4 linked regions of the Homo sapiens genome follow. The protein of the gene in region 4 purifies or fractionates together with the protein of the main gene of each other region. This does not show direct contact. Each region holds a gene or a part of one and is shown on either strand. Other genes may lie near its edges. The genes, in order: DIAPH3, TBC1D23, SLC7A1 and HS2ST1.

Evidence for each region.
Region 1: the proteins of HS2ST1 (region 4) and DIAPH3 purify together in Homo sapiens (affinity purification with mass spectrometry; 4 studies listed by BioGRID and IntAct, with this or other methods). This does not show direct contact.
Region 2: the proteins of HS2ST1 (region 4) and TBC1D23 purify together in Homo sapiens (affinity purification with mass spectrometry; 3 studies listed by BioGRID and IntAct, with this or other methods). This does not show direct contact.
Region 3: the proteins of HS2ST1 (region 4) and SLC7A1 purify together in Homo sapiens (co-immunoprecipitation; 4 studies listed by BioGRID and IntAct, with this or other methods). This does not show direct contact.

Annotation. Positions count from the first base shown.
Region 1 is NC_000013.11:59,665,064-59,670,939, forward strand, and holds the end of DIAPH3 (protein diaphanous homolog 3), read right to left. Parts: intron 1,784-5,876; coding exon 1,521-1,783; 3' UTR 520-1,520; downstream 1-519. UniProt on the Homo sapiens protein: Actin nucleation and elongation factor required for the assembly of F-actin structures, such as actin cables and stress fibers. Required for cytokinesis, stress fiber formation and transcriptional activation of the serum response factor.
Region 2 is NC_000003.12:100,291,982-100,299,011, reverse strand, and holds part of TBC1D23 (TBC1 domain family member 23), read right to left. Parts: intron 4,168-7,030; exon of another isoform or gene 4,086-4,167; coding exon of another isoform or gene 4,050-4,085; intron 3,926-4,049; coding exon 3,801-3,925; intron 3,711-3,800; coding exon 3,664-3,710; intron 2,841-3,663; coding exon 2,737-2,840; intron 1,090-2,736; coding exon 967-1,089; intron 1-966. UniProt on the Homo sapiens protein: Putative Rab GTPase-activating protein which plays a role in vesicular trafficking. Involved in endosome-to-Golgi trafficking.
Region 3 is NC_000013.11:29,585,659-29,592,688, forward strand, and holds part of SLC7A1 (high affinity cationic amino acid transporter 1), read right to left. Parts: intron 1,135-7,030; exon of another isoform or gene 1,067-1,134; intron 1-1,066. UniProt on the Homo sapiens protein: High-affinity, low capacity permease involved in the transport of the cationic amino acids (arginine, lysine and ornithine) in non-hepatic tissues.
Region 4 is NC_000001.11:87,099,625-87,106,654, reverse strand, and holds part of HS2ST1 (heparan sulfate 2-O-sulfotransferase 1), read right to left. Parts: intron 3,224-7,030; coding exon 3,066-3,223; intron 2,186-3,065; coding exon 1,959-2,185; 3' UTR 1-1,958. UniProt on the Homo sapiens protein: Catalyzes the transfer of a sulfo group from 3'-phospho-5'-adenylyl sulfate (PAPS) to the 2-OH position of iduronic acid (IdoA) or glucuronic acid (GlcA) within the heparan sulfate (HS) chain and participates in HS biosynthesis.

The sequences.
Region 1 (5,876 bases), on a different chromosome or scaffold from region 4:
TCTGCAAAATCACATTAAGAACTGATAGTGAGAGTTCTTTCATTTAAATTCTTTCCTAAACAAAACAATCCTGCCTTGTTGTTAGGGGTGCCGTCAGCTTAAATATGTAAATGTCCTTCACCTTTCTTGATTTTTAAGGTTTGTTTTCAGAAAAACAGGAATTGCAACTGGATGGCAAAATGCACATTTCAGCAATACATACAAATTCACATTTATTCCTACACTGGCTACAGAGAATACTCTGTTCTCCAATGTCTATAAACAGGGCCTGGCTCATAGTTCTAATTAATTAACTTTATTAACTTAGAGCTGAAAGGAGGTGGCAACTTAAGGAAATAAAAAGCAATAGACCTTGCCCGACTAGTTCCATATAACTGCTTTTTAACTGAAGGTAAAAGAACAGTCACTTACTTATTACATGTAATAAAGCAAAATAGATGCTTAGACAGACTGCATAGCACAGTCTATTCTCAGCTTATCCACAGAATGTTTTCAAAAAAAGAGAGACAAAAGAAAGCATTTTTTTTCATTTAGTGCAAGTAGCAAGTTTATTTCCTTTGATATAGAATTAACAGAGTAATGATGCCCAAATGAGGTAATATTACATTTGCTTAGGAAAACTTTCCTTGAAACACTTATTTAGATCTTTGTTAAAGTTATTGATTGTCAGATCAGAGAAATTGCAATCCCAAGTTTATTCATAAAATAAAAAAAGTTGTTACTTTGGAAATTTCAAAATGGCAATTTTATCTCAGAGTCATAATTACAAGGGGAAAAATACTCTCTTAGCCAAGATCAAGAATTTCGGCAGCACTGCAATTCTGTTTACATCCACGTTACACAAAAGCACATGCATTTGGCAAAGAGAGTGCATACATTCTTATTGCATCATTTTTCGTTATGTGCTCAATTGCCTTATGGTCCCCTAGAGGGTCTACTTAACATGAATTCAACAATGATGATAATGGGGTCACCAGTCATTTCCTTACATATATAGCTCTGATGTATTCAATTACATGTTTTTGATGTTGTGCTGGTAGTATATAGATCCCAATTAAGGAGAAACTTGGGCCTATATAAACAATATATATGGAATATACATGGATATGTAAAGACTTGAGGTTGATGACCTGACATCCATTAATGTTAAAAATAGTAAAGTAAAAATTCCAGTGGCTTAGAAAGATGGTATTTTCTTAAGGACACACTGCTGAACACATGGCCACCTACCTGCTCTCTAAAGCAATATGTATAATTTAACCACCAAATAAAGAACTGAGGAATACCAGGAGACAAAAAAAAAAAAAAAAGGATTAAAGCCCGGTACAATCTTGAATAAACCAAAACCTCCAGTACATAGAAAAAGCATTGCAATCATATATTTAGCTTTATTTTTCTAATATATATCATAATTTAAAACTATATAAAGTCACTTACATAAAAGCAATTTTTTCAAGTGTTATAGTTTAGAGCATGGCTTTATATTTGGCTTAATCATTTTTTTTAAAAACCAGTTTAACTTATAAAGCTCGTAATCTTGCCAGCAGGGCTTCAACTTCGGGAACTGATTCATTTTTAGAAAAAGAGCCAAGAAGTTCCGTTTCCTTTTTTCTGTTGCTTTCTACATTACACGCTTCCTTCTTCTCAGCTGCCTTGATCCTCCCAGTAGACGTATGAGTGTCTAGATTATAATTAAGCTCCTTGGCGACTGGAGTCCTTGTTGAGTTGCAATTGATATTGTAGTGTGAACGTGACCCTTCTGTCAACTGCACTTTCTGATTTTCTACAGTAAGGAAAAAAGAAACATAAAACTTATCACCATGATAACCAAGGACTGTGCACGTTATGAAACACATTTAAAATAATTATTCTCAATAAATAAGTAGTCTTCTTAGATAGACTAAACAAAGAAACAGTCAACAGAGTAAGACAGGTTTAAAATAATCACACAGGGGTTTAAGAATAAACTAAAATATAACAGCCAACCGTTTCATTAGCACTAATGCCCATTTCCTTCTTCCTTTATGCCTGACATGCCTGTCACGTGGTTATTATCAGGGCCTGGTCCCATATTTCTTTCAGGTCTCTGTTCAAACACCACCTAAAAAGAGAGGCCTTCCCTAGCCACCCATCTAAAATAGCATTTGCCCTTTGCACTGCTCTATCCTTCCCCGTCATGTTTTCCTTCACAGGGCACATGATGGCTGGACACACAATATATTTGCTCACTTGTCCATTGTCTGTCTTACTAGAATGTGTGCTCCAAGACAGTAGGGACATTATTTTAAATACTGCTGTAACTTCAGGGCCTAAAATGGCCCTGGTGCAAAGTAGGTCCTCAATAAATATTTGTTGGATAAATAAATAATTTCCACACTCTGTGACACAAGATTAAACATTAGCTTGAATAATAATGAGATTAATTTCCTTTTTGAATGAAATCAAGAAGGAAAGTTTCTAATAAGAATTTAAAAAGTCGATTATTTTCCTTTAAAGAAACAATGAACTTGGCAAGCAAATAATTAAAACTTCCTAGCAAACCAGAATGTTATATGTAATTGTCAAGTATATACACATCTATACATACATGCATGTACATATATACATACACACATACATTCTTTTATTGGTAAGTGATGGTAATGATGACTTTTAAAAAACAGACACCCTCAATATTCATGTAACCTTGAATGGGGCTTGAAAATGGCTTCAACAAACCTGACATGACATTTAAAGTTTTTTGGTTATTCTCTGAGAGATGTTCCATTGTCCCAATAGTAATGACTTTGGAGCACAAGCAGTCACTCATGACAGTGTGTTTTATGTGAGTGCTGAAAATTCCAACTGAAAACAGCTTGTACATTAAAAGGTGGCTGCTGAAGATATTTACTGCACTGTCATTTTCTGACCAGAGGCTTCCAGTGATGGATGAGGATTTTACACACTTTCTTGGACAATCTCAACAAATTTTAGAAGTATGATCACCTTTTAGCTGCTGGAAGAAAATAAATACACTTTGTCTTTCACCTTCTATATCAGGTGGGCAACTGTTACTCAAAAATCAAAATCTAATAGAGCAGTGATTTTCTCTTAAAGGAGTGTATGCTCTGTAGCTTATAATGTACATATTGTGTTTGCCGGAAAGAGCACGGTAGATGTGGTATTCCTGCAGTTCCTATGACCACATCCTTTTCTTTTCTAGCTCCCACACCTCTGTCCCAAAGAATGCTTGAAAACTGCATTTGCAGCTAAATGTAGAATGTTGGCCAGCTTACTGCTCCTTCCCCAAAATGTTCCTATCTTTGCTTATTTGATTTCCTGCAAACCACTACATCATGATGGTATCTCCAACAAACCAGTTTATTCTGCTATTGGACAACTCTAGTTAAAAGTCTAATGGCAAAGAAGAGATTAAATTAGCCAAAATATGGGTATAGAATATGAAATGTGTGTGTGCGTGTGTGCGCGTGTCCATGTATGCACTCCAAGAAAGTAGGGACATTGTTTTAAATATTGCTATAGCTTTAGTGCCTAGACCGTCCTTGGTGCAAAGTAGGTGCTCAATAAATATGTGTTGGGTAAAGAAATTATTTCCATACTCTGTGACACAAGATAAACTTTAGTTTGAATACTAATGACATTAATTTCTTTCTTGAACGAAACCAAGAAGGAAAGTTTCTAATCAGAATTTTTAGTCAGTGGTTTTCCTTCAGAGAAATAATGAACTTGGTAGGCAAATTATTAAAACTATATATATACACATATATATATATGTATGTATACACACACACACACACACACACAAAACACATACATACATACCATCTTATGAATAGCCTGTATTTTGTTGCACTTCAAACATTACCACCCTCAGCATATAGATTGAGGGGTAAAAGCAAAAGGAGGTTAAGTCATTTGCTTAGACTTAGTTACTGAGTAAATCGGTGGTAGACGCCAAATGCTGTCTCTAGAGATACTGAGGCTGTCTTCAAGAAATCTGAAAACCCTTTTGCCAAAGGAAAGTGCTAAGTAATTCAAAGCTAAGTTTCATAATAATGGTGTCCTGCACTTATACTTCAAAATGCCTTCTAACACACTGAATTCTCGCAACAGCTTTGTAAAGCAGATAGTACACCTATGTAAACTACCTTAACACAGTATATCCAAGGTCACACATATCCTCCATTTCTTTCCTGGTCTCACTTAGATTCATGACTATGAACTTCAAAAGCATGACCTTTAACCCACTACAATTCCCTAGTCCATTCACTCTTCCATTCTCCCAGACAACTGCTCCACACCTTCTCCACTCTTTGAAACTTCCAATATGTCCTCCCTCTCATTTAACTCACTCATAGAGGTGATCAGAAGAGAGCTCCTGCACGTGCCTCACCCCTTCCCCAACACCTATTATCTGCCTACTGCACACACATACATCCGCCCCTCCTGTTAGGATGAATCAACCTTCCGAGCTCCCCTCTGAGGACAGCCCTCAAGGTGAGTGACGGATGTGACTTTTGCTTGGATGTGACTTTTGCTTGTCTATTCAAGGACATCCCTCTGGCTGCTTTGCCCTCTCTCTGCTGCATTGTAAAGGTTTCTTTCTCCAGGTGCTCATTCCCCTCAGCAGAGAGGCTCTAATAATCATAAATTTATGAGGTGGGGGGAATCTCTGTTTGTCTCCACATCCTGCTCCAGCTATCTAAATTCTTGGCTCCCTTTATAGTAAAATACCTTGAAAGAATTGCCCATACTTACTCTCTTAATTCCTCGCTCCCTATTTTTCTCTTGAACCCACTCCAATCATGCTTTTGACCCTTTACTCTTCTGAAACAGTTCTTGTCAAGGTCGCTAATGAACATGCATGCTGCCAAAAACAAGGATTGCATATCTATTTTGAATGTCTTAGTACTCCTTGATCTATACCAGATCCAAGGATGAAATGCCTAGCATTTCCTGGGTTTTTCTTTTAGCGTTTGGTCTTTGAACTTCTTTGGAGACAAAGGTAAATAATAATGGATGGGCCAAGGCAGGCAAAAGCATTTCTATCCTTTTGAGAAAACTCAAAATAGCTGTGGGCTTGCTTTAGGGACAAAATGATAAGAGAAAAACTAAGATGGTATTTATCTCCTCTGTGGTTTCAGGTGAGGAATCTTTCATGAGAAGTAACAGACAAGACAGTGTAAAAAGGAAAGAGGCCATTCCTGAGACCACTGAAGAAATAAAAAAGAAAAGTGCACAAGAGTTTTTTAAAAGATGTTTATAGCTTTCTTAGAAATTCCTAGATAACAACTCTTCATTCCCAGCCCTCACATTAGCTCTCAGCACCCCAACAGCCCCCATTCTGGTCCTCACCTTCTTTTTGGTTTGTCTCCAGACATGGGAGACCAAAACTGTAGAAATGAGCAAGTCAGATCTTAAACTGCAAAGCAGATAAATGAAGCTGGACAGGAGGAGTTGCCTATCCCACTATAATTAGAGATAGTGCAGGTAGAGGAAGTGCTCAAGCTGGAAGTTCACTTTTTTTTTTTTTTTTTTTGAGACAGTCTTGCTCTGTCGCCCAGGCTGGAGTGCAGTGGCGGGATCTCGGCTCACTGCAAGCTCCACCTCCCGGGTTCACGCCATTGTCTTCCCTCAGCCTCCCGAGTAGCTGGGACTACAGGCGCCCGCCACCACGCCCGGCTAATTTTTTTGCATTTTTAGTAAAGACGGGGTTTCACTGTGTTAGCCAGGATGGTCTCGATCTCCTGACCTCGTGATCCGCCCGCCTTGGCCTCCCAAAAGTGCTGGGATTTCAGGTGTGAGCTACTGCACCCGGCCGGAAGTTCACTTTTTTAAAGCCTGGCAACAAAGCCAGGCTGGGGATAAGCTATCTA
Region 2 (7,030 bases), on a different chromosome or scaffold from region 4:
GAAAGTCTTAAAATACATAGAAGGAGAGTGTCTGTTTGAGCTATAAAACTAATTATAATTAATTATAAAACTAATTATAAAACGCTATATAGTTATAAACACAACTCTAGATATGCTATTCTTTTTTGCAAATAAATCTGCAAATTTATCAACAGCTCAATTCACGTAAGAACTAAACATCTATTTCGTGTGGGGGGATGAAGGGAGAATGTTCTGAAATACCAGTTTCAACTAAAGAAGTTCACATGGATCTCTTTAAACTGGATAACATGTTTTCATTTGTTTTTAAATATTAGTTTGAATAAGAAAAAAGTGAGATGCTTGTATTTTGAAAATCCTCAATAACCAGCGCAGATACAGTAAGAAATCCAACTAAGAAAGATCTACCATAAAAGGCTATTTTCCCACGTCCATTCCTTTCCTGCCCTCAACCTTGGAAATACACTACACCTTCCAAATACACACCATGGTTAACTGCTGCACTACTAGTAATAAAGACCATATATTAAAAACATCATTGGTCAAATTGACTTATTAGATTTTCATGAAGAAAATTTCATTTTCACAATTCTCCTTTGCTATAAGTTGTATGGAACTAAACCATGTAATTCAATTAGCTGTAAACTACCAGAAACTGTTAAATGCTAAATTCACCCTTTTAAAAGTATTTTATACAATGCCACATTCAGTTGCTCTACTGAAATATGGAAAAAAGATACGGCGATTTACAAAAACTGGTGTCAAGAATGTCAACAATAATTAATTGTAGACAATTAAAACACCACACAAGCTGACAAGTTTTAAAATGACCCTCTGAACATAACATTTAACACAATCATTCAAAAAGCCAAAAGAGCCACCTTGTTGCAGTAAATTGATTTTGTGGGAATCAATGAACAGGGAGGAAGTTGGTTCCTTGTATTTAAAATGAACAGTCCCCTAACAAACTGGGTTTCCTTTACTTACCCCTTGTAGCTGATTCGCTTGAAGGATCTCTGACACGGAGATGGCCAGACAAAGAGCCTGACTCAGATCTGCATCATCATCCTTAATTCCCAACAAAGTACTACCAAAGAGATGGTGATTATCCTGTTTGAAGGGAAATTTTTAAACATTATGAAAAAAAAAATCAAACTTTCTTCCTAAAAATATTCTTATTAAACCATGATAAAAGGTAAAATTATAATACTCTTGAGTTGTGATTTTTTAAAACTTAATACTACATAATCTCAAATTTTATAGGCTAAGAACTACAAAAATGTCACATAAAGTCCCTGTCAGTGTTCATACAAAATGAAAGACTAAGAAAAAAAAAACACATTCTAAATAGCTATTTTCTATACTACCACCTGTAGTTAATATTGAACTTTAAAAATGGTTACTTACAATTTTTCATATCTTAATAAAAACAAATATGTGGCAGAAATCTATTGCATAAATGAGTTAAAATACTGATCCACAGCCTGCTCTAATTCACAACTGCTAGTACAGTTTCACTATGTCTGAAGAATAAAAGGTGCAGCTCTTGAATAAGAAAAAAAATAAGACTTCTTTTTCATTCAGTATTTTAAACTACTATCCTACCATCTGACTTATACAGCATTGTTAGGAACTGAAGAGTTCTATATAAGAAAATTATTAAAATAGTTGAAACTGGTCCCTAGAAATAAGTCTTTTTAAATTAGTTATTTTTGAGGGAAAATGATCTTAAAAGGTTTCCTTTACCTGCTTTCTAAAACACAGTATACTAAACATAACTTAACTTTATCTTGACACTTCAGTGACACGATGAGTACCAACTAGAAATTATTATGGCAGAATGCTTTAAAAAAAAAGGTGCTCTCATGGGCACCTGAAGTCACATACAAACCTGTCTGCTTTATAAACTTGTGCCTCTTCCACTATTAGCTTTTGCTTCTTAGAGTTTCATTTTTCAGGAGTTCACATCACTCATACTTCTAATCTGGTGTCCTTTATTAGGCATCTGTCTGGTCTAAGGATCTAAGTCTTTACGGGGCCTAAATGACCTTTCTTTATAAGACAGCTCAGCATTATTAAGACTATACAAGCCTGAACTCCAGAGAAAAGTGGCAAAACTCTACCTCCTCCACTGGATTACTACTGTAATATAATTTTTTTTTTTTTTTTTTTGAGACAGAGTCTTCACTCTGTCGCCCAGGCTGGAGTGCAGTGGCACAATCTCAGCTCACTGCAAACTCCGCCTCCTGGGTTCACGCCATTCTCCTTCCTCAGCCTCCCGAGTAGCTGGGACTACAGGCGCCCACCACCACGCCCGGCTAATTTTTTGTATTTCTTAGTAAAGATAGGGTTTCACCGTGTTAGCCAGGATGGTCTCGATCTCCCGACCTCGTGATCCACCCACCTTGGCCTCCCAAAGTGCTGGGATTACAGGCGTGAGCCACCACGCCCGGCCCTGTAATATAATTTTTAAAGTCAAGAAAGCACTAATTTAGAAAATATCTCAGTCAATTTTCTTATGATCAGAAATAACAATAATCAGAAGAGAGGTAAGATGCGTTCTACTATCTTTTTAACTTGTCTGTTCCTCCACTAGGGAGGGTATTTACAGAGATGAAAAAAAAAAATCACACAAAACTACAACACATAAAGAAACAGAAAAAATTGACAACCTATTTTAACTAAAGTGAATATAAAGTAATAAAACAATGTACAAAATATGAAATACAACATAGTTGGTCATTTCTGGTCTTATACCTTCCTAAAAGAAGCCGGTGTTTTGCTGCAATAATACTGAGCCAGAGAGAAAAGGTCTTCTATATCTTCTATATTCAGACTGGATGGAGTATTTTCCAAGAACTCTGAAATATTATAGACATAATATTTAGTAGTTTGTGAAAAATGCAAATATTGTTTATGTATCAGAGCCGAAATATCTTCATCATAAATACTATGCAAATGGAGTCTCAACACTGGTGCTTTTACAATGACTTGTGGAAAAGTGGATTTCTCCAAATGAGCTGAAACGGCTAATGTAAATCTCTTGTCAGTGAAGGATAGTGTCAGGCAATCAAATCAAATTCATTAACCTTAATTAGAATTCTATGATTTATTTATTAAACATATATGAAGAAATGCCAAGGCCCCTGAACATAAAAAATGCCTAAGAAATAGTTACTGACTTAAAGAACTTTGTCTTGTGTGAAAAAATAAAAATAAATCATTATAATACAGTAAGATAAACATTGTTATACAGATAGAACAAAGTGCCAGGGAATATAGAGAGGAAGTAACTATCTCTATGTGGGGGATATGGTGGGGAGAATCCAAAAGGAGAACCAAGGTTTCACAATTGAAATATCATATAAACTGAGTATTGAAAGGTAAATTAAGGATGGGTAGGGAGGAACAGAGGAGGGCAATCTATTCGAACAGTGAAACTAATGAAATAGTATATGGAAAGGAATGAAAGAGTGAACAAATATGAAGGAATGAATGAAGATGGCAAAATAAAGGAAAATAGTCTTTAAGGTCTGTACCTGGAGAGTGTTTATATAATCTGAGAGTTGAATGGAGCCTCAGAGCTCTTCTAGACTAATCTCCTAAATTTACGAATGAGGAAACTGAGTAACTTACACAGATAAAGAGACCTGAAATGTTTTCACTACATTAAATGATACTTACTGATAACTTCTTCTTTGCTGTCTGACTCTTGTGTTAAAATAACTTCTCTGTAAAAGGGAATCAAATCAATTTGAGTTAAATATTAACAGAGCACCCTGAGAAAAGAGGAAAAAAAATCTAACCAACCAGATACTTACTTTGCATTAACAAGGATAATTAACATTAAGAAATAAATAAAAAATGGATCTGCTTGTTGTAGATATCCATCCCATATTGCCTGAGTGACTTCAGTGGAACAGTAACATGCAAAAAGACTTCCAAGCTGTAATCAGGAAATGAAATGAGAGACATAAACCACTGGAGGTGACTTGTTCTCTTAAAAGTATTAAAGCAAATGAATAAGAAACATTATATCAAATTATCTGCACCTGATATTTAATGCGTACCTTAATCTTAGTGTATGAAATCCAAAGGCAAAACATGTGAATTCAAGGGACAATGGAGCCACATATTAACTGTGTGACTTAGGACATGTCAACCTCTTTAAAGCTTCCATTTTTACTTCTGTAAAAAAGAGGAATAATGCTACCCATCTTCTACTATTATTGTGAAAAGAATACCTAAAGTAACTAGCACATATCTTTGCCATAGCATAACTAGCATAATTATGGTCTGAGCTCCATAAGAGTAACTAAAATAATTACAATATAATAACAGCACAGTATTTAAATTACAAGGTAATTGTGAGGATCAAACGTGGTAATTTAAGAGCAGCTAATAAAACTTTAATCATAATATAAATATGAATTGCTCCCAAAGCTCACTTGTACATCACTTGAAAGAGATTAGGCCGGGCGCAGTGGCTCACACCTGTAAACCCAACACTTTAGGAGGCCAAGGTGGGTGGATCACCTGAGGTCAGGAGTTTGAGACCAACCTGGCCAACATAGTGAAACCCCGTCTCTACTAAAAATACAAAAATTAGCCAGGCATGATGGCACGTGTCTGTAGTCCCAGCTACTTGGGAGGCTGAGGCAGGAGAATCACTTGAACCTGGGAGGCAGAGGTTGCAGTGAGAAGAGATCTCACCACTGCACTCCAGCCTGGGTGACAGAGTGAGACTCTGTCTCAAAAAAAAAAAAATAAACACAAAAAAAAATAAATAACATTCATATCCTTCAATAAATTTCAGGAGCTAAGAGTTGTTAATTTATAAGCAACTCTACAGCCCAACTGTGTTTTAAGTTGCATGAAGTAATATTTTTAGATCATTCAACTTTCATTAGATACAGAAATAATTCCATCTACAAGTTTAAATTTAAAAAATTTTTAACAGCTAAAGAGAATTAACGGGAACACATATATTTAGTGCACTCTTTGTGCAATACTAAGCTAATACTAAACTATTATCACATACCATTAAAAATATCTCTTACTTAAATTCTCACAACAGGTGTGCAATACTAAGCTAATACTAAACTATTATCACGTATCATTAAAAATATCTCTGATTTAAATTCTCAAAACAGGCCTGGAAAGTAAACACATTTCTCCCCATTTTACAGGTGAGAAAGTAGATTTCAATTACTCCCCATTTTTTTCAGGCGAGGAACTTGGATTACTTTACTTTCTCAAGCTCACAGAGCTAGTGAGTGGTGTTGGGAACAGAAAAAAGCCTGAGATTCCACAGCCCATGTAATTGCCATCACACTTGACCACAAGGCTTTTAAAATACATAATGCTACTAATGTTTTTTGTGGTTGCTTTAAAAATTACGATTACAAACACAGATTAGAAGAGGTACATACAAACAGAATAGCAATACACAGTCATCTTTAAGCTCACTTAGCTCAACGAAAGTTACCACTGCATTGCTCACAGTGGTTTAGGAATTACTTTTTAATTGTTTCATCTCATGATACTTAAAAAACTCTATTTCATCAACATGATACTAGTAGCAAGAGTAAACTATCTGAGGCCAGGCACAGTGGCTCACGCCTGTAATCCCAGCACTTTGGGAGGCCGAGGCGGGTGGATCACGAGGTCAGGAGATCGAGACCATCCTGGCTAACATGGTGAAATCCCATCTCTAATAAAAATACAAAAAATTAGCCGGGTGTGGTGGCGGGCGCCTGCAGTGCCAACTACTCGGGAGGCTGAGGCAGAAGAATGGCGTGAACCCAGGAGGCGGAGCTTGCAGTGAGCCAAGATCATGCCACTGCACTCCAGTCTGGGTGAAAGAGACTCCGTCTCACAAAATAAATAAATAAATAAATAAGTAAACAAACAAACAAACAAACAAACTATCTGGCATATCAGCTGAAGAGAAACCACTCAGTTTAAACCTCCAGCTATCAGCACGAATTCAGAGCTCTGGCATCAGAAATGGCATTTCCTAGGCAGAGAGACCTCTATTATTAAAATGCCTAAGAAAAATAGTTTACTACCTTAACATAAATAGGTAGATTCAGTGGCAACATATGAATCTCAGAGAAGCTACAGTTTTGACAAGACTAGGCTTGGCTCACACCTGTAATCCCTGCACTTTGGGAGGCCTGCGTGAGAGGATTGCTTGAGCCCAGGAGATTGAGACCAGCTCAGGCAATATGGTGAGACCTTGACTCTACAAAAAAATTAAAACATTAGCCAAGTGTGGTGGTGCATGCCTGTGGTCCCAGCTACTCAGGAGGCTGAGGTGGGAGAATCACTTGAGCCCAGGAGGTGGAGCTTGCAGTGAGCCAAGACTGTGCCACTGCACTGCAGCCTGAGAGACCAGAGCAAGACCTCGTCTCAAAAACAAAAACAAAAAACTGACAAGACTGTGGCCAAGAGGGAATTAAAGAACAGGTTACTGAGGTTTGAGATTTAATGAGCCCAGAAGTGAAACCAGTTAGAATTCTCCAATTACCCATTTCCTGATTGTTAACTCATCCTATCATCCTCTGAAGTAGGTACAGTACTATTATTTCCACTTTGCAGATGAGGAATTGAAGCTCAGAGGCTGTCTTAGATCACACAGTTAATAATGGGAAGAAATGGGATTCTTCCTGAAGAAAAGTTAAGTAATACATAATAAAAGGATATGAACATATAGTCTCCTAGGACCCAATCATTGTTTTAGAAAGATCTCAAGTTAACCAGAAGAGCAGCAGTTAACCAGAAGTGTGGTCTGGGGACCTCGTAGAAGTCCCCAGGATTCTTTACAAAGGATCTGTAAGGTCAAAACTATTGTTACACAAATATGTAGAATTTACCTGCCTTTTGCATATATATTCCCTCGAAAATGAACAATAGAATTTTCCAACGCCTACATGATATGTGATATTATCACAGATTGAAATAAGGGCCAGGTGTGGTGGCTCAGGCCTGTAATCCCAGCACTTTGGGAGGCTGAAGTGAGCAGATCACCTGAGGTTAGGAGTTCGAG
Region 3 (7,030 bases), on a different chromosome or scaffold from region 4:
GCACCGGGCTTCCAGAATCCTGTGCTAAGCTGACAGTACAGAAGAGGCAGCCAACAGGGCTCTGAATCCCAAGTGCCTGAAGGAGGAATGAAACAATCTCACCAGAGAGGAAAGGACAGCTGTGACAGTCACCCTCCCTGAACAAGACCACTGAGACCAGGGATGGACATCTTCCAAGCTAACCTACAGTGCAGGTAAGAATGGGAAGCTGCATTTTTAGATAACTATCCATTAGAAACCAGGACGACATATGAACAGTGTATCTTGGTAGCCTTGGATGCTCAAGGATGAGAAACCCTGGGCAAACCAGGCAAAAATTCTCAACCACAGGACAGGACAAACTGGCCCAAAGGTTCCTTAGTTACAGAGTAAGTAAGAAGAAGCTGTAATTCTACCCCATCTGGGAACATTAGGAAAAAGACAACATCTGATACTCTGATTTCAGTAGAACTGGATTCTTCCAAAAATATAAATGTCAAAGTCACCCATTCACAGTATAATTTGTACCAAAGTGCAAAATGGGGTATGTATGTGTGCCAAAGAACAAAATCTACCAGAACTGAGCTGCTAGGGCAAAATTACAACAGAAACTTAAAATAATATATTGTCCCATCCACCTGCCAAAACATTAGCTCAAAGACATTCCTCCTTTAAATACAGTTTTACTAATTATAAGAATAGTCATTCAATAAATATTTCTTGAGCACTATTTTAGGTGCCACAAACACTGCAGTGAGAAAAACAAAGTCCAATTTTTCCAGTCTTTTCTTTCTGTGCAAATACATATATCTCATTAAGCTAACACGGAACATGGGAAATTGCACCCAGATGGTTTCACTTTTAACATTAAAGTTTCTCCCACAAAATCAAATGTTCTTTGAAAACGCCATTCTTACTGGCTACATAGTATTCTAACATGGAAATGGTATCATGATTTACTGAAAGACACTCCCAAATGCTTACCACAAGATAAAAACACAAAGGAGAGACATCATTAAATAGAACGTTAGACCTAGATTCAGAGCCTTAAGGAAAAAGAAGAAAAAAAAGGAAAATACAATCTTACAAATCTCAGAGACCCCACTATTTTCCTCCACAGGGATGAATATTCACATCCACACCACTGGCCACATCAAGCTCTAATTTGTGCATCTCCCTTTATAAGCCCCACTCCCTCTTTGATCGAAGAGAACATTGTCTGCACAGAACAATACGTTTTCATTTCAATTTCCCTTCTTTTCAGGAAAGGAAATGTTTGCACTTCAAAGGGTTTCTTTGAAGAGTAGCCCTTCAGCTCTGGCCCGTCCAGGTTGGGCGTTACGTGGACTCAGCAGGGTGTGTGGAGTCTGGGCGGCTGCCCACCGAAGTCACTCTCAAGGCCAGCTCCTTCAAGGAGAGGGTCTGGGGCCGGAGTAGAAAAAACAAACACATGGAAAAATACTCAAGGCTTTTGATCATGACCTTCAGAGGCCCATTTTCACACATAACATAGACTTACAGCTCAGGGAAACTGAGGTACAAATGATGGGGAGCTGAGGACAATGACGTAGTAGCTTCTAAGAACAAAATCCTTCCAGAAACCAGACTCGCTTAGCAAAGACCCGTTCTGGGCCAGGAAAGGGGAGAGCCACTCTCAGTTCCAGCTGTTATGGCGAATGGACCACCTAAGCGGACAAAGCAGGGAAGCGAGATCCAAACTTCACTACCTGCACCAGTTTTAAAACCTTTCCCTAGGAACTTTTGAGAAGCACAGTCATTGGCAAACAGCAAACTTCACATGGTAAAATTTCACATTTTATTTCTTCCGTAGCCCACTGGTAGGGGCCAAGAGGCTCATTAAAAGGCAAGTCTAACAACCACATGAAGCACCCAAGAGCTCACTGATATGGGGCCAGTGCTGTTTCCCTCAATCACGCTCCAGGCCCCATCCTTAACCTCTGCCAAGTCCAGGAAGCAAGGGGTATAGACCAGACAAGAGTGGGCCTGCAACATTTCTTTTCAAGTCTCAAACAAGTTCTGGATATTTATTAACGATCTCCACCCTTCCCCACCTGGAGGATATGCACCACAAAGGCACCACCAAGGCTGGTTAAGTCTGCCTGCTCGGTGGGCACCTGCCCAAGGGGTGGGCAGGAGCATGAAAGACCGTCAGCTCCAGACAGGGGCCGGCTCCTCCCACAGCCCCAGGACTTGGCTGCGGGGCTCCTGACTAGTGTGTGGGTGGTGGAGGGATCACGAGTCTGTGTGGCCAGGTCACCAGAGCTGAAGGAGCTGAGAAAGTCTTTCCACCACCTTTCTGGTCGATCACTCAGCCTCTGAGCTGGAATTATGAATGGGTTTTATTTTCTCCTTCTTTTAATTTTCTGTAGTTTCCAAATTTTCCACAACAAACATTCTAACTTTTAGAAACACTTTTTCTTAAAAAGGCTTATGAGGTAGAAAATCACACCTCTTTTGAAAGAACCCCCACACTGCAAAACTCCTTCCCCAAAAATACTTAGCTATAAAGGACATTATGTGGACGACTGCAAGTCAAATATGGACTGTGGCCTAGATCGCAGGGTTGTATTAATGTTAAATTTCCTGACTTTGCTATTGTACCATGGTTATGTGAGAGAAGAGCCTTGTTCTTAGGAAATATACACTGAAGTATAGAGGGCAAATAAAATGGCATGACGTCTTCAGCTGACTCTCAAATGGTTCAGAAAAAAATGTATGTGTCTGTGTGCATGTGAGTTTGTGTGGGGTGGAGAGAGAATAGAAGGAGGCAAAACATAACCCACCTGTGCATCTGAGAGACGGTACCCAGGAGTTCCTTGCACTCCTGCAAATTTTCTTTTCTTTTCTTTCTTTTTTTTTTTTTGAGACAGTATCTCACTCTGTTACCCAGGCTGGAGTGCAGTGGTGTGATCTCGGCTCCCTGCAACCTCCGCCTCCCGGGTTCAAGTGATTCCTGTGTCTCAGCCTCCCGAGTAGCTGCAACTATAGGCATGCGCCACCAACACCAGGCTAACTTTTGTATTTTTCGTAGACATGAGTTTCACCATGTTGGCCAGGGCTGGTCTCAAACTCCTGGCCTCAAGTGATCTGTTTGCCTCAGCCTCCCAAAGTGCTGGGATTACAGGCGTGAGCCACCATGCCTGGCCTCTGCAACTTTTCTTTAAGTTTGAAATGTTATCCAAAAACTGCTGAAAAAGAAAAGGGGAAAAGGAGAAGGGCAAAAGGGATGAGGGAAGAGTTCTCCTAACTCTAACTGCCAGTCTTTCCCAGGGGCCTTCACTGGGTCCCAGAAACTGCACCCTAACGCCCCCAGCTCCTAGACCAGGCCTCATCCCAAGGGAGGGCAGGAGGTGTCCCTGACACTGTGGAAAAGCTGCGGGCCAGGAAGACTCTCCCAAGTCACTTTGGGGAAGACGGGCCCTTGCTGCAGGCCCTGGTGTGGACAGCTCCTGCCCCAGCCTCTCTGAGAGTGTTAAAGATGCATCCTCTAAGGAAAGGGGGCACCTCCGCAAGATATTGTAGAAATCAGCAAAGCCAAGCCAAGGGCAGGATGACAGCGGCCACTGGCCTTAAGAAGGATGGAACACAGAAAAGGAAGCTGACTTTCCCCTACGAACAGTCTCTGATTTCCACAAGACCCCCTGCAAAGGGGTCTCCCCAGGTGGAGATGGAGGTGGAGTGTGGGCGTGGCTGGATGGTGATAAATCAAACAAGGCTCCATTGTGGTCTGGGCAGGAGGCATTGCATCCAGCCAAAGGCTGGTGATGTAAATGCCAAACTACTGACCCAGAAAGAATGCAGCCCAGCCTCCGTCACACACACCGGCTCCTGACACTGGCCACGTCCCAGCGCAGCTGCCCCAAGGACCCCAGGGCTCCAGCTGTGCCAGGTGCCTGGACTTGGGAGGGGGAAGACCCACTTTCAGAGACAGCAGAGGGAAATCAGGGCAAAGAGAGGGGAGGCAGGGTGCCCTCCAGCGTTGGGGCGGGTGACCGGTGCCAGCACCACCTGGACTCAGCCAGAAACAGAGGGACGCAGGCAGATGGGCTTCAGATCTGTCTGCCTCCCACTCAGTGTACACAGGGCAGGCCAGGCCAGGCCTATCCCGAGACAGGCTGGAGTCCAGGTACAGGCAGACATCTGGGTTCCAATCTTCACTCTGCCACTGACTGCCTACCTGTGTGCCCGTGGGCCACCTGCCTTCCCCTCTCCCCATCAGTCACACCAGAAGGGCCGATCCCACTGGGTGGTTAGGAAGATTCAAATGAAACATAGATAAAGCGCAGAGTACATGGTGAGCACTAAATAAGTGCTTGCAATGATTGATCTTACCTAGCCCCAGGGCCCCTCCCTTCCTTCCTACTTGGCCTAACAGACTTTGGCTAATGGCACTCAGTAAGCAGACAAGATGCAGAGAAGGACACTTCGAACACGTCCATAACAGATCAACTCCAGCCACTTTGTGGGGAGGATGAGCCCCTGCCTTCTCACTGCTGCCCCCAGGTGGGTGTCGCCCACCACCCCTGTGCTGTATGGAGACATCCTATCCTACAGACCCAAGCACGGGATGAGTGAGGTGGGAAACACGGCCCAGAGTTTCAGCTTTTCAGCTTTGCTTTTTCTAAAACCCAAGGGCTTCGGAGTAATTTGAACAACATGTTTGGGATGACTGTAGCCAGGGCAGTCACTCCCGTCCTGCCCCCCACCAAACACACACACATACATATACACATACACATACACATACACATAAACATACACATACCCACACACAGCAAACACTAAGAAAGGGGCTGAGAGCTCTGTTTCCCAGGAGTCCTAGAAGTCACTGAGCGCAAGGTGCATGGGTCTGAGTCCTAAGCAAACCTGCACCCCATGCTCAGGGAGACATCAGGATTCCAAAGAGAGATGGCTTCAAGTCCATCCAGGCAGTCAGAGCCAAAACAGCCCAGAGACTATTGTTCCTTCCCTCAGACCTGGGACCAGATGGGATGGTGAACCTGTCAGCAGATGCCTCAGAGGCCCGCATCCCTCCTCCAGCACCCTGGGACTATGTCTGCCCCTTCTAATTTAGAAACCCACCCAAGGAAAGAGCACAACATTTTAATGCCTTGGTAAAATGAGAGAGCGAAATTAAGTTGTTGTAAAAATTATTTTTCTCAGGGCTAGGCTAAGTGGCTCACGACCATAAACCTAGCACTTTAGGGAGGCGAGGCAGGTGGATCACTTGAGGCCAGGAGTTTGAGACCAGCCTGGGCAACATAATGAGATCCCTTCTCTACCAAAAAATAAAAAATAAAAATTAGCCGGGTGTGGTGGTACACACCTATGGTTCCAGGTACCTCAGAGGCTGAGGTGGGAGGATCGCTTGATCCCAGGAGGTGGAGGCTAATACAAGCTGTGACTGCACCACTGCACTCCAGCCTGGGTGACAGAGTGTGACCCTATCTCAAAATATATATATATTTTTCTCCCACACCTAAATCAAGGAACTGAGCCTTCTTTCCAGTATAATAGTTAACACTTACATGCAACATTTAGACTTGTGCCAGAGGCTGTGTTAAATCCATAACATGGATTATCTCATTTAAATCCTCTCAGTCCTATAAAGTAGGCACTAGAAGGCAATTATTATGCAAACAATATGAAAAAGAATTTAAATGTGGTTCTGAGGAATATCTCAGAAAAGACACTGACCCCGTAAGTGGAACCCACTCTGGGGCTCTGCTCTTTCTGCCAGTAGGGATCATGATGTCTCCTTTGACCCCACAGCGTAGAAGCCCCATAACCTCATGTTGCAGAGGCCCCATACCGAGCAGAGGCCACTCCCTGAGTCACCACTGCTAGATGGTTTCTACAATGCAGAACTCACTGTGCAGGACACGGCAGTGTGGGATCCACTTTTAAAGAAACAGGAAAGCAGCTGGTTGCCCTCACAGCCAAGAATCCGATCTGAACAAGTATTCTGAAGAAAGCACTGCAGTAGGAATATGGAAAGCTAGGAAACAAAATTGCCATGCCCTCTGTGCCCCCAGAAAAGGGAGGGGGGCAAGGGGACAATCAGAAAAAAATGGAAAGACAATGTAGCCAGACATAGTCCTACCAGAAGAAGGGACATCCTCTCCCACCTCCAAATAAACCCCCAGGTTTCCTCGCGCTTGATTTTTGGTTGCCACGGTCAGAAATTTTTGGTTGCCGTGGTCAGAATTGCAGGCTGCTAACAAAAGGACTGATCTCAAGAGAGAAATGTAAATGCATGGACTTGGTGCCTTGATTCTTTCAAAGAACACTGTGGACTCCATGCTTCCTAACTTCACTACTGTGAGGCTGAGAGGGACAGGCTCTCCCAATATACAGATGGAGCCAGTATGTAAGGTTCACGAAGTCTAAATTACTTCAGAGAGAAGCAAAGCCAGAGAAGCCAGGAGCGGTGCTGTTCCCAGTATTGGTCCCAACTCCCCTCAAAGAAGCATCCTTCGTTTCAGGGCAGATAATCATCCCATTCTGCATTGAAGCTGTGAAGGCCTCTTCCCTCAGTCACACGGCTCTGATTCCAGTTATCCAGTGTGTTCACCAAATGCAATACCTGCCATTCCCCACTGTTCCTGACAATAACTAGAGGAAAAAAGCCCAATGAAAGCCACTGGGTGTGGCAGGAGGGGCAAACCACAGACCAGCCAGAATCTGGTCCAAAGCCCAGAAACATCTTTTCTGAAGCCCAAGTTCCTGGGATGACCAAATCTCGACCAGTGGGCCAGGTAAATGGCATCCCCTGGGTCTGCCAACACTGCACATCTGAACGAATGCCTTGGGAGAAAAAGGAACACGGCTAGCAAGCCACCAAATCATTTTCCCAGTTTGATGCCCATCCTTCTGGTAATTCCATTTGGAAATGTACTAAGCCTGGATTGACAGATCATGACCCACACTGAACCACAGGGGTGGTTATTTTCAAGGCTGCTTTGTAGATGGGTATGGGAGTGGGGGAGGAGGCAGATTATGGCAAAACAGAAAGGGAGGCCACTAAAGT
Region 4 (7,030 bases):
AATATTTTTATATTATTGTGAGGAAAGGGTGCTAAGATGATTGTTCTGTCATTCTTTTAGTTTTTCTTTAGTTTATAAATGTTTCTTTTGTTTATAAATGTTTTCTCATAAGAAGTGTTCCCTCATGCCCTCCCATAACCTTTAAGGCAATCTACCTAAAATGCTTACAGTATGGTGAAGCCTTATTCAGAAATATTTACTTAAACCATAGGTATAGAATAGCTACCATTTCTGAATAATAATGTAAAATGAAAACAGAAACAGCTTTCAAATTTGAAGAGAAAAGTTTCCCTGACCCTAGTCAGCTAACAAAGCCTATTTCTAACAGTGAACTTCCTGAACTCAAGCAGCTGCTCATGAAGCTTTAAGAGTTCACAGGCATTTCATATTTCAATAGTTGTTGAAACATGGAAGATAAAACACTGAGAGGATATTTATCAAACACAAATTTATATCAAGATTAACTTTTTCAACCAGCTTACAAGCAGACTTTTCCCTTTCTTTGTTAAAAAATGAATGGTATGAAACTATATGTTAAAGATGTTTCTATAATACCTTACATTTACATAGCGCTTTACAATTTTCAAAGTGCTTTCACATGCCATCTCATTTAATCCTCACAACAGCCCTGTGAGGTAGGTACAGCAGGTATTATTATCCTCATTTCAAGATGAGGAAATTGAGGCAAAGAGAGGTTAAGTGACTTGCCCAAGATCACACAGCTGTAAGTGCTAGAGCTAGGACCTGAAATCAAGTTTTTTGACTCCTTGTCCAGTACTCATTCCACTGTAATTACTGCCTCAAGTTATGAATAATGAACTGTGTATCAAAATTGAAAGCTTACTGAAGTTCATTTCAGTGATGTCTTAACAGTAAAGTTAAATGAGAAATACAAGAACAGTAGGTCTGATGGTTTTACTTGACATAAAATTGGTGCAAAACCACTTTTGTCTAATTACTTGTAACCTTTTGGTCCAAATACATAAAATATGCAATATTTACAGCATTTTCCTTGTTTTGTAAATGCAATGCTTTAAAACACATTATAAAGCACCTTAGTAAAAATAGTCTACAGGTAAAAGTACAGAAGAAGTAGGAAAATCCTACCCATACCACAGCTCACTAATGGAGTCATAATACGGAGTCACCGATATCTCAGTTTACAGCTTTACAAATAACCCATGGAGAAACAAATACTAAACTTACTTTTTTGATATTAATGTGTGAAAATCTTAACTAAAACTTCAGACAATCTCAATATTCTTTGAAGTATCTTCCCAGTATTAGATATTGAGGAGGCAGGAATGAGAAATACTGCTTTGATGCTTTATCTTTTTACCATATTAGTCATGATTTAAATTGATTTTTAACACTAATCACCATTTAAAAAATTAAAACCACCTACATAAATATGGGCAAATCCAACTACAGCAGAAACATTTCTTAGCAAATATGATTAAACATTCCAATAAATTTCATGAGACATGACTCACAAAAACAAAGTACACACTGCCAAACAGTTATTAACACAATTCAGTAGAGGTGTATAACCCAAACCCTCAGTGAAGGCAGAAGAGGCAAATGGACTCATCTTAATTCATGGTTAGTTGAAAAAATGCTTTATCAAAAACAAGAGTATCAGAACCTTTTCTGAAATTGTATTTAGCCTTTTGATTAGACCTGCCATAAGTTCATTTTAGGTGATGTATATTTTCTCCCAGGCAGGAGGTTATAACTTTCACCAACGTTTAGCCAGGAAAAATAAAAATGCCTGAAACTTAGAACACTGACAATGCCAGCCAGTATCTACTTCCTTGACGTTACTGTCTGTTTCCTAATTTGGCTCAATACAAATTGTCATATACACCTACTGTCAGCAATCCAGACTGTGGAGCTGAGAACAAAGGTGAAGACAGGGTCAAATTTTAGTTCAAGAATCCAATAGTCACACCTTATACTCAGTTCGACTTAGGGTAAATCTTTTCATAGAAAAAGTTTTGTGCGAGGATGTAGAGGTCTCCATCTTTTTCTCGAACGGCATGGGCTCTGATGAATTGGAACTGCTCTAGTGCAAATTCATAGAACTCATTCTCCATTTTCCAAATATCAGATTGCTGTAGTTTTGCAATGGTTTGTTTAGTGGGGAGTTTCTTCTCTGTGGTTTTCCTAAGATGAGATTTCTTTCCTACTTACAAAGGGGGAAAAAAAGGAAAGGTAAATAATTCTTGGAGAACACACAAAAGATCAATGCCTCTTTATTTGAAGAGGTGGTTAATATGACACATTAAGAACAGGTAACATAATTGTCTTATATAATTCAGGTAAAAACGGAGCCTTGATCAAACTAGAGCCATGATTCAGTCCTTTAGAATGTTAATCCTTAACCTAGTAAAGACTTAATGAAATGTCAAATAGTCAATGTAAGGATTGGCACACAGTAAAGTGTAGGCTGTCACCTCACACACTATATTCTCAAGTGCTTGGTGCTCTGAGACTAGTTTATTTTTGATAAAATACCTATTGTCAAACTGTATTCTATTTTCTCATAATCTGTATTCTCTAAAATTATGTGTTAGAAGCTAGGGCATATGCATCCTCAAGGAGAAGAGTTCCTATGACTGCATCTTATCAAGCAATAGCAAAAAACGAAACAAAACAAAAACACAATTAGCTTATCACTTTCAGACACATGATAATACGGCTGAGGCTGCTAAAACATGGCTTAGGCATACTTCAGTTCCCCTATCACACCTCTACTTCAAAATGGTAGTAGGCAGGACTTATACACAGGCCTAATGTTTGATATCTGGCATTATTGAATACCATACATTTCTATGGCTGGTTCTGTACTTTGTATCATTCCACTATTTCTACAGTGCCTTCTAATTTTCACCTAATTCACAGTTACTCAATTGAAAATAGTGAGCAGAAACCGACAAGATACCTGCCTTTCTGGAGCTATCTGTTGTGTTTCACTGAAGAAACTTCAAATCACATATTTACAAGTTGCAAACCAAAAAACCAAACCAAAGAAAGCTTTAAAAAGAAACCCTTCCTTTATATACCTGTGCGATAGAGTTCAGTAGCACCCCTGAAAAACCGGGGCAATGCTGCCTCCAATAACATGATAAAATCTTCAAGTTCTTCAGTAACTCCCACCAGAAAATATTCATTAATTAGGTTATACTTGGCTTGATCCATAGCCCACCTGCTTCCCACATTCCTGAAACCAAAGAAAAGGAATTAAAACCTGGTTGTGAAATCTGCTGAGTGTTTCTGGTGCCTTTGACACCATATATTACAGAGAAAATAGATAAACACATGTATATCCAAAGCCTCAATGCCTCTTTATTACCATCCTGTGGGAGGCACACCTGTTTCCAATTTCATTTGCTTCCATCTCCAGTTTCTGCTCAACTATGAGTGCTAATTCAGAGTTTACCAGAGGACTCTTAACATGAGCAATTTAGTTTAAGGGCACTTTAAAAATGTATATGGATATAAGAAACATACACCCCTCCCATATGATTTAGTGTGTGTTTTAACTTTTTTAAACTACTCTAAATTCTGTTAAGAGCTCTCTAGCAAAGTGTAAACAATTTGTGTTTACTGCTTATTGTGTGAGTTTCGGGTTTTTGTGAGCTAAGTGTTTTCTGAAATTTCTGAGGAACAGAAAATAGATAATGGCTCTGCTAAGAATCTTTTATTTTTATTTTAATTTACATTGTCAGCTAATGCTATTAACAGAGATTTGATCCAAAATAAACTATACTTTTGGGTTCTTTTTAGCACAAATATTCCTTAATCCAAATTCTAGCTCTGCATTTAAGTAGCAGTATGATCTTGAGCTGGTGGCTTCACCTTTCTCAATTTTGTTTTCTCAAACTATTAAAAAAAACAAAGAGGGGGAGGGGAACAGTGATTAATTGGTTTCTAAGAACCCTCCCAGTTCTGTGAATCTATGAAACATACTAAAGAAATACAATTAACTTCTCAAAAATGCCCAATAGAGCAAGTCTTTATTGTTCTAAGGCAGGGATTGGCAAACTTTTTATATAAAAGGCCAGAGGATAAATATTTTAGGTTTTGCAGACTACATAGTGATATGGTTTGGATATTTGTTCCCTCTAACTCTCATTCTGAAATGTGATTCCCAGTGTTGGAGGCTGGGCTTGGTGGGAGGTAACTGGATCATGGGAGCAGGTCCCTTGTGAATGGTTTAGCACCATCCCCTTGGTGATGACTGAGTTCTTGGCTCAGTTAGTTCATTAGAGATCTAGTTATTTAAAAGACTGGGGGCCTGGTGCGGTGGCTCACACCTGTAATCCCAGCACTTTGGGAGGCCAAGGTGGGCGGGTCACCTCAGGTTGGGAGTTCAAGACCAGCCCGACCAACATGGAGAAACCCCATCTCTACTAAAAATACAAAATCAGCTGGGCATGGTGGTGCATGCCTATATTCCCAGCTACTCAGGAGGCTGAGGCAGGAGAATTGCTTGAACCTGGGAGGTGGAGGTTTGCGGTGAGCCGAGATCACACCATTGCACTCCAGCCTGGGCGACAAGAGCAAAACTTTGTCTCAAAAATAATAATAATAATAATAATAAACGACTGGGTCCTCCCCCTTCACTCTCTTTCTCCCACTCTTGCCATATGATGTGCCTGCTCGCACTTCACTTTCTGCCATGATTGTAAGCTTCCTGAGGCCTGCATCATAAGCCAAACAGATGTTGGTGCCATGCTTGCACAGCCTGCAGAACCATGAGCCAAGTAAACCTTTTTTCATTATAAATTACCATCTCAGGTATTCCTTCACAGTAATGTAAGAATGGCCTAATAGAGAAAATTGGTACTAAGGAGTTGGGTGTTGCTATAAAGATACCTGAAAATGGGAAAGTGGCTTTGGAACTGGGTAATGGGCAGCGGTTGGAAGAATTTGAAGGGCTCAGAAGAAGACAGGAAGAAGAGGGAAACTTTGAAATTTCTTAAGTCGAGACTGGTTTAATGATTGTGATAAAAATGCTGACAGAAATATGGACAGAAGTCCAGGCTGATGAGGTCTCAGAGGGAAATGAAGAAGTTACTGAGAACTGGAGTAAAGGTCACCTGTGTTATGCCTTAGCAAAGAACTTGGCTATGTGGTGTCCAAGTTCTAGAGATCTATGGAAGTTTGAACTTAGAGTGATGACTGGTCGGGTGCGGTGGCTCACACCTGTAATCCCAGCACTTTGGGAGGCCGAGACAGGCGGATTACCTGAGGTCTGGAGTTCGAGACCAGCCTGGCCAACATAGCGAAACCCCATCTTTACTAAAAATACAAAAATTAGCTGGGCATGGTGGCACACGCCTGTAATCCCAGCTACTCAGGAGGCTGAGGCAGGAGAATTGCCTGAGCCCGGGAGGCGGAGGTTGCAGTGAACCGAGATCGTGCCACTGCACTCCAGCCTGGCTGACAGAGTGAGACTGCCTCAAAAAAAAAAAAAAAAAAAAAAAAAAAAACAAAAAACACACACACACACACAAAAGTGATGACTTAGGACATCTGGCAGAATAAATTTCTAAGCAGCAAAGCATTTAAGATGTGGCCTGGCTGTGTCTAAGAGGCTACAATCAAATGCAAGAGCAAAGGAATGACTTAAAGTTGGAACTTACATTTTAAAGGGAGGCAGAGCATAAACATTTGGAAAATTCACAGCCTGGCCATGTGGTAGAGAAGGAAAGCCCCCTCTTTTTGTTGTTTTTTGTTTTAAAGACAGGGTCTTGCTCTGTTACCCAGGCTGGATCTTGGCTCACTGCAGCCTTAACCTCCTGGACTCATGTGTTCTTCCTACCTTAGCCTCCCAAGTAGCTGGGACTATGGGCATATGCCACCACACCTGGCTAACTTTATGTTTTGTAGAGATGAGGTTGCCCAGGCTAGTCTCAAATTTCTGGGCTCAAGTGATCCTCCCACTTTGGTCTTCCAAAGTGCTGGAATTACAGGCATGAGCAACCACTCCCACTGGAAAGCCTATTTTCCAGGGAATAGGGCAGGGAATAGGGAAGGAATTTAATAACACTGTGGAGCAATCACTTATTAAGGAGGTTAGCATGACTAAAAGGGAGCCAACTGCTAATATCCAAGACAATGGGAAAAAGGCCTCAAAGGCATTTCAGAGATCTTCCAGGCTGCCCCTCCCATCACAGGCCCAGAAGCCTTGGGGGGAAGAATGATTTAAGGGGGCAGGCCCAGGGTCCTGCTGCCCTGAGAAGCCTTGGGACATTGCTCCCCACATCCCGGCCACTCCAGTTCCAGCCTCAGCTCAAAGGAGTCCAGGTATAGCTTGGGCCACCACTCTGGGGGAGCATAAACTGTAAACATTGGTGGTTTCCAGGTGGTGTTAAGTCTGCAGATGCTCAGAATGCAAGCATGAAGGAGCTTGCATTCCACCTAGATTGCAGATTCCACCTAGATTTCAGAACTGGGTTGCACTGCAGCCCTCACCCCACACAAAGACTCAAACAGGGAACTGCCTAGTGGAGCTGTGGGAAGGTGATTATGCCCTCCAGACCCCAGAATGGTTGGCTCACCATCGGCTTGCACGCTTTGCCTGGAAAAACTACAGGTACACTCAATTCCAACCCATGAGAGCAGCCATGTGGGCTGTACCCTGCAAAGCCATGGGGGCAGGGCTGCTCAAGGCCTTGGGAGCCCACCCCTTGCACCAGGATGCAGGAGATGAAGTCAAGGATTATGTTGGAGCTTTAAGATTTAATGACTGCCCTGCTGGGTTTTAGACTTGTGTGGGGCCTACTGCGCCTTTCTTTTGGCCAATTTCTCCCTTTTGGAAGGGAAATGTTTATCCAATGCCTATACCACCATTGTTACTGGGAATAAATAACTTGTTTTTTATCTCACAGGCTCATAGGTAGAAGGAACTCATCTCCAGATGAGATTTTGGACTTGGGACTTTTGAGTTAATGCTGGAATAAGACTTTGGGACTACTGTGAAGGGATGAATATATTTTGAAATATAAGAAAGACATGAGAT